2 linked regions of the Homo sapiens genome follow. The protein of the gene in region 2 purifies or fractionates together with the protein of the main gene of each other region. This does not show direct contact. Each region holds a gene or a part of one and is shown on either strand. Other genes may lie near its edges.

Region 1 (3,500 bases), on a different chromosome or scaffold from region 2:
GGAAAGGTAGTCTAGCTATGTGTCCAAAGAATGGAGGAATGCATTTTAATGGACAGCTAGTGGGTCCACTAGTTTGTAGATGAGGACAACAGTCTCAACAGGATTAACTTGCTAAAATTAATTGGTCACAACCAAGTGACAAAGCCAGGCCTCCACCCTAACCAGAGCCACCATCGTCTCACCTGGACTGCAGTGGTGGCCTTCTCACTGGTCTGCTTGCCACCCTGCACACAGAGGGATCCTTTCAACACTTACTCCAATCACACTCTGACAGTGATAGAAATAAACCTGTCAGTTCCTGCATGTTCTTCTAGCCCTCGGCCATGGGCTCATGGGTTCAGTGAGAGCAACTGAGTTGGGGAATGGCACAGCCTGCACCCGAGCCCAGATCTGACTCCACATTTTGGTCCCCCAAGCAAGAAACGACAAACGCCAGCTTCCAGGCCACTTTTATTTAAACAGAAGCAGCGGCCCCACAGCCATGGGGACATGTCTTCCAGACAGTAGACACAGTGCCTGTGGCTGTAAGAGCCTGACAGGGAAGATTCATGCCTTTCTCCTTGGCCCCCATGACCAAAGAAGAAAATAAAAATCACACACCATACACTGCCACACCCATCTCCACCCCTCCCTTTCAGTAATATCCAAGTATTCATCCTTCTGGCCAAAGAAACTGGCTACAATTCTGATTCTAAAGAAAACCTTCATGCAGCCAAGAAACTCAGGGCTCTGGAGGGGAGAGCCTTACTCTGATACTTTCCACATGCACTGCCCACTGGCATCAAGTTTAACTCCATCCAAAACCATCACATGGATGGCCAGGGACAGGACTGGCTACAAAAAAAAGCCATGAACTCAGCTCACCATGCTAAGAAGACTGCCTCTTTCCAGGCAAGATTTTACTGGAGCAACATAACCGGAGGGTGTGATTCCAAAATACCTTCCTTTCCAAGCCCCGGGTTGTGGATAAGGTCTGGATTTTGGTTATATGACTAAGGGCGACAGAGGCTGCTGGCATCTCTGGCCACCGTCCCAGTGGCTTAGGGTTGGAGGCTTCACTGGCAAAACAATGGCACTGTTTAACTAGCTCGTGTTAACCATTCATCTACAGCAAGTAGAATCATCAGTTTTGCACTGAGCAAGGAAGCACATGGGTCTCCTATGAGAGCTAATGCCAGAATTCACATGCTTTGTAAAATATAGGATGAGGTTTATTTCTTTCTTCTGCCCCCTCCAGAGGCCAAATGGGTAGGGTGGTTCCTTTGCCTTCTGAGTGCCTGGATGCCCCCAGCCCTCACAAGACCCTGCTAAGACACTGGCAGTGTGCCAAGCCTTGGGTGGGATGGGTGAACACCCTTCAATGACTCTGAGAGGATTCTGGCACCTGGAATGACAAGACAGATGCTTCCCTGCAAGCCAGGTATGAGCCTTTCTGGAAATGAGATGGGAGCTGACCTTGGGGTTGAAGGAAGGATCTTGAATGACAGATAATCCCCAAGTGTCCACTGGATCATTTTTCCTCTGACTTTCCACACAAATGAGGCTTTCCGTGGGTTTTGCAACCACAGTGTCTAAGACAATCAGAAGGGTTCCAGGGAGGTCTTGTCTGTAGCGATGTGACAGATGAGGAAACTGCAGCTCAGAGGACAATGACTTGCCCACGTTGCACAGCTCGCTGACAGTAGAGAGGGGCTGAAACCTAGGTCTCCTGACTCACACGCCACAACCATGACTGGCTCAGCTCCCTTAATTCCAGCTTCCCTTACATGACGCAATTCCTTCTCAGATTCGGGTTTTCAGCTGAGGCTGGGCAGTTCTTAAGATAGAGTTGCATAAACAACCAAGCTTTGCGTTATAACAAGCCAGGGAAGGACCTAGGGAGGTTCCCTTCCCTCTGGAACGGAAATGGAACTTTCTCTGAGCTTAGGATTTGTAAGGCACTGAAATTAACTACAGCTGGGGTGGGGAGTGGTGGAAGAAAGAAAAAGAGGGATGAGTGGTTGGAGAAATCAAGTCGATGCTCTTTTCTTCCAGCCCCACGGTGAGAATCCTACAGAAACATGAGGGTGGACTCCACTTTCCCACCTGATGCTGTCCACTCCCCAGCCCCTGCTGCAGAGCAGCGCGGACCCACTCCCACCAAGACAAAGTGGGTTTTGGGAAAGATGAGGCCTGCAGGGTTGGTGAGCCAAGAAGAATGAGCCCAGGTCCCCTGGATCCAATTCAGAGCGGAGACCACTCTCTCCACCTAGGTGTCCCAGGCTGAGGCTGGGACAAGATTCAACCCTGGAATGCCTTCTCCAGGAACACAGGGCACTCCGAGTGGACTCAGTGGTGGCTGGGGTGGGCCTGCAGGCCCAGGCATGAAGGAGGAAGGGGCAGGACGGCACCAAGGATGGCAGGGAGAACTTTGGCCTCGGACCTGGCTTTGGCACAGCGCATCTGGGGCCTCCCCACTCCGTGGCTGCCCTCCTGAGATCCCAGGGTGGGGAAGAGCTGTCCTTCTCCTGTGAGGACCTCGTCTGGCTGATGGAGGCGATGGCAGGGCAACTCCAGCGTATCCCCTTCATCATTCCAGCCATGGCTGTGCACAGGTGACCTAATGTGGAGCCTTTTCAGGCTCCACTGCAGATGTGACGCTGAACGGGAAGCAACAAGAGCTACCACTTACCCAGCACCTTCAATGTGACCAGTGCTCAACTCAGATGACAACAACCTGCAAGTAGGTATTACTATCCCTTTCAACTAATGAAGAGACCCGGGCTCAGAGGGGTTAAGGGACTCACCCAGAGTCACACAGCTAATGAGTTCTAAACGGGGAACTGGACTCAGGCTTGTCTGACTCCAAATCCCACATTCTTTCCATTCCACTGGGCTGCCCCCTGGAAGCCAGGAGGAAGGTGGTGTTGGGCTGTCAGGGTGGGAGTTCTGGAGGGGTTTCTCTTTGAAAGTGTGGATCTAGGAAAGCAGCCAAGCTTGAGTGAAGGGAAGATGCCTGACCACTCACACGTGTCTGTCTCTCCAGGCGGGCTCCAGCTCAGTGCCTGGCGGCCTTGCAGATCTTGTCGTACACCTCGGGGAAGGCGTCCTGGCAACCCAGCTTCTCTCGCAGCTTGTGGTACAAGGAGCCATCAAACATCTCCCAGAACTCCTCCCGGTTCATGTAGCAGTCGGCATACAGCATCTGGAAGCTGCAGAGGCAGAGAAGTGGGTGAGGACGCCAGGAGGCACACGGAACGCGAGGCGTGAGAGAAACCCAACTGCTCATTCTGCAGCCCAGAAAAGGCTTTTGGAGGATTTCTCTTGTTTAACCCCGTTAACCTGGTGAAGAAGATGGTGCAGGTATTCTTATCCCCCTTTTGCAGGTAGGGAATTGGGGCTTGGGGGTTAGGTAGCTTAGCAGTGGAGGTAGAGTCAGGAGTAGAGCTCAGACTGCTGGGCTTCTGCCCCTCTGCTTGGCCAGAGGCACAGCTGCCTTCCCTAATGGAGCAGTGGGGTTG
Region 2 (5,600 bases):
TTTTGACTAGATGGCAGTCTGGTCACATTATTCAATGTATGAAATTCCCTTAACATCAGGCATCCTTGTCTCCAAATACAAGCATAAAAACAAGTAGTAGATCAAAGCCAAATGGATATGACTTGGAGATTATCCGCCATTTCTGACTTTTGATTTCTCTCTCCCACTTCGAAGAGAAATAATTGAGGCTGGTCAGACTCTCTAAATTTATAATACTTGTGGGTATAAATCTAGGCAGCTTTCTGTCTCCATATTAGATTTGAAAATGTATTTATCTAAATAATGAGGGTATTTAAGACTTCGTATGAAGAGAATTGCATTTTCTGGACTTTTCTTAGAGTAGCATATAAGTTGTACTACTGAAAATAGCCCTGTCTGTCCTGGCCCCAGGACCTCCCTTCTCCCCTCCACAGCTCAGTAGAGGGATTGTTTAGGAGGTCACATACTGACTGTTATTTTTATCCCATATTAAAGTTGGGACCGATTAATACTTGCAATTTATCATGTACTTAATCTTTGAGTGCATGCAGAGGGGAAGCAGAGGGCAACACTGTCCATTTTTATTCAGTTTCTGATTCACTTGGGCACTGCAGAATATGATAAAAGCAAAATCTGTCCTTACCTAAGTTCTTCAAGAGACACAGAGGGAGAATTATGCCAAAGGTAACTATCACCACCAGAACGCGGCCATCCACGTACCAGGCTCTGAAAGGCATTTAAGTGATTAGGTTATATTTTTTTAGAAAGTGACTTTTTTCCCCTCCAATGTAAAATTTCATGATATCATGATATATATTTTTATTAATTTTTACTATATGCATTAATTTTTAAAATCATTATTCAGGTCTTATCCAAACACTTTAACCCAGCCCCTACTTATATACTACAGCTTCACTCCCCTGTAATGGAAGAGGGAATATTGGTTTTTTTTTTTCCCATTGGCTAAATGTGGCATTCTTTTGAATTATTTACATGGTTTCAAAGCTGAATGCACACATTTCATTCTGTCAGATTACAACTTGTCCTATCAATTATTTAAAGAGAAAGCTCCTTTTTGTTTTGCTGGGCTAGTATCAGTGAGAAACAAGTCACTACAGGTAGACATTTCTCTCTCCCTGATCCCTTGGATTTGACCTTGAATCCTGAGAACACTAGAGACTCTGGCTTCTACGATTCTCCCTTGAAAGAAAACAGAGAAACTAAGACTGACAAGAACTGTTAAACAAGAGGGAGTCAAAACACAATTGTGCCAAATGTAGCTGCAACATTTTCCAGGGTTATCTACATCTTTAATGAGGTTGGCTCATGTAAATTTCGCCCCCAAAATGCTATGTCCCTTCTTTAAGTAAGAGGCTAGGGTCTTAATTTTTGTTGCACGTTCCACTTTTGTGTTAAAAATACTGCATATCTGTTCTATTTCACAGAAACTAGATATAGATTTCAGGCTCTGGGGAAAATGCAGTATCTACCGCTCATAGCATGACAGACAAATCTACTTTTCAAATGTGCATATGCAAATGGCTCTCCTGCTTTTTTCCTTTATATAGCCCCAAAGAAATTTATTGTTGAAACAACAAACAAACAAAACGCAGCCTAGGAAAAACTTTCTGCAATATTCACAAGCAAGAATTTTGATTGGCCCATATTTAAATTAAAAACATTTTAGTTATATCATAAAAAAATGGTCTATAACTTACGAAAATGTCTCTTCCTTTCCCATTAGAAACTTTATGGCAGAGGGTAGTTCATTTTTTACGATGAAGAGGTAGCTCAGCATTGCTGAAGGAAAATGAGAACATTTTTAGAAAGAAGATACGAAGGCTTATGTTGCAAGCTACATAAAAAGTTATCAGCCCGTTCTTAGACCAACTGTCAGTAAGACACAAAGGCAACTTCAGCTACTCTAGCAGGATTTGTGGCTTTAAATAAGTGACTGCTGTCTCTGCTTTACTTTCCCTGTGCCATTTTAGCAATGAGGATGATAACTGCTTGAATTATGTTAAAATTCATGTGGCCGCTCATCCACCAGAATTAGTTTCAAGTTATGTAAAGAAAAGCATGTTCTTTTTACCTCCAGTGTTCTGTAGAGAGGTGGCTCCAAAGATTACGAACTTCCCTGTGGTGCCAAAGACTTGTTCCCCCAGCTTTTCATACACCATGCAGCCTATTTAAAAATCAAATTTGAGAACACAAGAAATGACAGGGTTCAGAAAGTTAAAATAGTCAAGATTTTGTCATTCTATTGACTGTTCCCCAAGTTACTATGTGCCTTTCTCAAACTCACACAAATAGTCATTTTGGCCTTCAGGGGTTAAGGTATCCTCATTACAAAACAAATTCTTAACATTTTAAAATGTGAGATGCAACCATCATTTCTCCTTTTTCAAGTTGGCTACCAGAGCATTACAATTAACCTATTAGGTCATAAGGCTTATTTTTAACTACCTCTATCTTACAAAGGGGAAATTCCTTCTGTGATCTTTTTCTTCAGGTCTGGTGTACACCATTAAAATACATATTTGATTTAAAAAGATCCTAATAGTTGAAACAAAAAGATTCCTTTTGAATTAATGACCTGAACTGATTAGGCAAACAAGGAATTATCTTAATAACATCCCATCAATGCCTCCACGTTCTAAATGTAATAACAAGCTTAGAAACATTTTAATAGCCACGACATACAAAACCTAATTATTCATAAAATGTAGTTCAAATACATGCAACTCACAAAAGAGAGCAGAAGACTAATCTGTCAAAAGCATAATTTGTCTGTAGCAAAATTTGAAAGTGTTCGACTAGCTCATCTCAATAAATACTGAAACTCTAAAGCATTCACTTTTTAAAAAGTGTTTATATTTCTTTATAACTGTTCAGTTCATGTTTTCAAAAGGTTCACGGAGAGCAATATGGGACAGGCTATAATTAAACCTTTGTTTAATCTCTCATAAGACTGGTGTTTAAACTAGACAATGGTTAGCTCCTCAATTTATTATAAAATGTTCCAGTTAAATGGAGTCATGTATATACAATAATAGTTGACCAATGTGGTTTTAGTTAATGTAAAAGTCAAAGAATTACAAACATAATCCAGTGTCCCAGAAATAGAAAATAAACACTTCAGGTATTACACTGCCCAGAGTACTTGAAGTCTCTTCATAGCTTGCTCACTCCCACATTGCCTCAGGAGTAACACTTTCTCCTTGGAATATGCACAAGAGAATGACAGGTCTGTTTACTTTTAAAACCTTGGAAGTTATAATATAAAAACATGGGATCTTTGTTCTGGATTTATAAAGACCTAAGGAAAAACAAGCTTTTAAAATGAAGTCATTTTAAACCAGAAAAACAGGTATAATTGAGGGTTCACTTTAAGTGACAACATTATTTTCTCATTGTCCATGACAATTTAATTTATATTTTGCTGCAACTGTTTCTCTAGATAAATACTACTATAGGTCTTCCAATCACTCTAGGTCAAAATAGTCTTTCTTTTTAATAATCAAATTGCTGTACAGAGAGAACATCATTGTTCCACAATGCTACCATAAAAATAATTCACCCTGGTTTTAACAAAATCAAACACGTCCTCAGCTTACCTGTTTCTTTTGAACAGATCAATAGGAGGTTTATTGAATATATAGACAGCAATGTCACTGAAGTCAAAAGTACCCTAAAGCAAAGAAAATAAATCTTATTGTAATATCTAGAAAAGAATATATTCTGGCATTACAGTTTAGAAGGGCAAAGGTTTATTTGTATGGTTAACACTATTTGTTAATAGTATCCAAATTTTGGAACCTATTAGTCATCCCTGCTTTAAAATCCTCAACAAAAATGTCCTACCAAATAAAGAAGTGCTCATTAGAATCTGAGTAACAGTTCAAATCCTTTATGTAATTCGAAGCCCAAATAGCTCTCTGGGAGCATTTCGGTTGAGATGACTTTAAAACAACATTATGAAAGAAGGCTTTTGTAGTCTATGTTGCACTCTCTGTTACATCCGGGTGAGAAAGTGTGAGAATGGGGTGGGAGGGGCGGAGGGAAAGGCTGGCAGTGACCTTAGGAGAATGACCACCTGACTTTGGGCAACTTGCTTAACATTCCCATCTCTGGATTCCTTGCCCATAATATAAAGATACAAGCCAAATGATGTCTAGGGTTCTTTTCATCTATTACTTCATGGCTATTTTAAAATCTATATATTGGGCTACTAATGTAATTCACTTTTTTTGCACCTGGTTCCTCTTAGATGAATAAGCACCACTTGGTAACCAGTGGGAAAATTTGACAATCAAGTATAATGAAAAGACTTTTTTGAATGATGAACTCATGTTTTTGTTTTAGTACATCTGGGTCATTATCACACCCTTCTCAAGAAAAAGTGCAGTTAAAATGATGTGGGAGATTATATAGATGATTTCTGAAACATTTGGTTAAAACAGACATGATAATTGAAAATAAAGCCTATTTATTAAAAAAGAAGAAAAAAAATCCAGTCCCCAGATGAAACCGCTCACTTCCTGATGTGGGAAAATATATCCCTAGAACAATACATAACTGCAATTGACTCTATGTTTGAGTCATGAAAGGCAATTATTTTTCCACCAAGTGCTGTTGAGAGGCACTTGGCACATCATGCCGTTCGCTCTGCGTGGGCTGCTTCCTCCTGGCCCTTCCCCCTCCCAGCACACCTGTTGAAGGCTGCTCTAGGCCCCAGCTCAGATGCCAACTCCTCAGTTGCCTTCCCTGGCCCCAGGCAGAATGACTGCTCCTCAGCTGTCTATGATCCTACAGTGTTTTGTTTCTCCTGCATACGGGGCAACCATGAGGAGATAAACCAGGAGTACAGAATGGTCAACAGCAGAACAGATGAACTGCCAGAAACTGGCCAGCAAACAAAAGAGGGGCAGAGCTCAGCAGAGGCAAAACAAACACTAGGAGAAAGAACAGACCTAACACTTTGGGTAGAGGCCCAACTGATCTGCCAATAAACAGGAATTTAGGTTAAGATATGATTGGTAAGGAAGTACATTCAGATCTATACTTATTTCCCTAAAATCCTTGAGTGAGGAGGCTGATTGATATGGTTTGGCTGTGTCCCCACCGAAATCTCACCTTGAATTGTAACTCCCATAATTTCCACGTGTTTTGGGAGGGACCCGGTGGGAGATAATTGAATCATGGGGGCAGTTCTCTCATACTGTTCTTGTGGTAGTGAATAAGTCTCATAAGATCTGATGGTTTTTTTATAAGGGGAAACCCCTTTCACTTGTCTCTCAATTCTCTCTTGTCTGCGGGCAAGTAAAATGTGTTGTTCGCCTTCCGCCATAATTGTGAGGCCTCCCCAGCCACGTGGAACTGTGAGTCTGTTAAACCTCTTTTTCTTTATAAATTACCCAGTCTCAGGAATGTCTTTATCAGGAGCATGAAAATGGACTAATACACTGATTAAGAGGGTAGGTCTCTTATCTCTTCAGGTTGAGGGATGTGAGAAACGGACAGCAAGCATTTATTAGCCAACCCAGTAGTTCTGAGATACGTAATGGAACAGGATTTGATATGCTCTGCCACAGAATAAGATATGGGACCTAATTGTGGCA

What was found. Proteins that work in one complex are often made in the same cells at the same time.
Region 1: the proteins of SLC38A1 (region 2) and DHCR24 purify together in Homo sapiens (affinity purification with mass spectrometry; one large-scale study listed by BioGRID and IntAct). This does not show direct contact.

What each region holds. Positions count from the first base shown.
Region 1 is NC_000001.11:54,849,196-54,852,695, forward strand, and holds the end of DHCR24 (delta(24)-sterol reductase precursor), read right to left. Parts: intron 3,192-3,500; coding exon 3,038-3,191; 3' UTR 432-3,037; downstream 1-431. UniProt on the Homo sapiens protein: Catalyzes the reduction of the delta-24 double bond of sterol intermediates during cholesterol biosynthesis.
Region 2 is NC_000012.12:46,205,458-46,211,057, forward strand, and holds part of SLC38A1 (sodium-coupled neutral amino acid symporter 1), read right to left. Parts: intron 3,671-5,600; coding exon 3,597-3,670; intron 2,165-3,596; coding exon 2,072-2,164; intron 1,780-2,071; coding exon 1,698-1,779; intron 706-1,697; coding exon 623-705; intron 1-622. UniProt on the Homo sapiens protein: Symporter that cotransports short-chain neutral amino acids and sodium ions from the extraccellular to the intracellular side of the cell membrane. The transport is elctrogenic, pH dependent and driven by the Na(+) electrochemical gradient.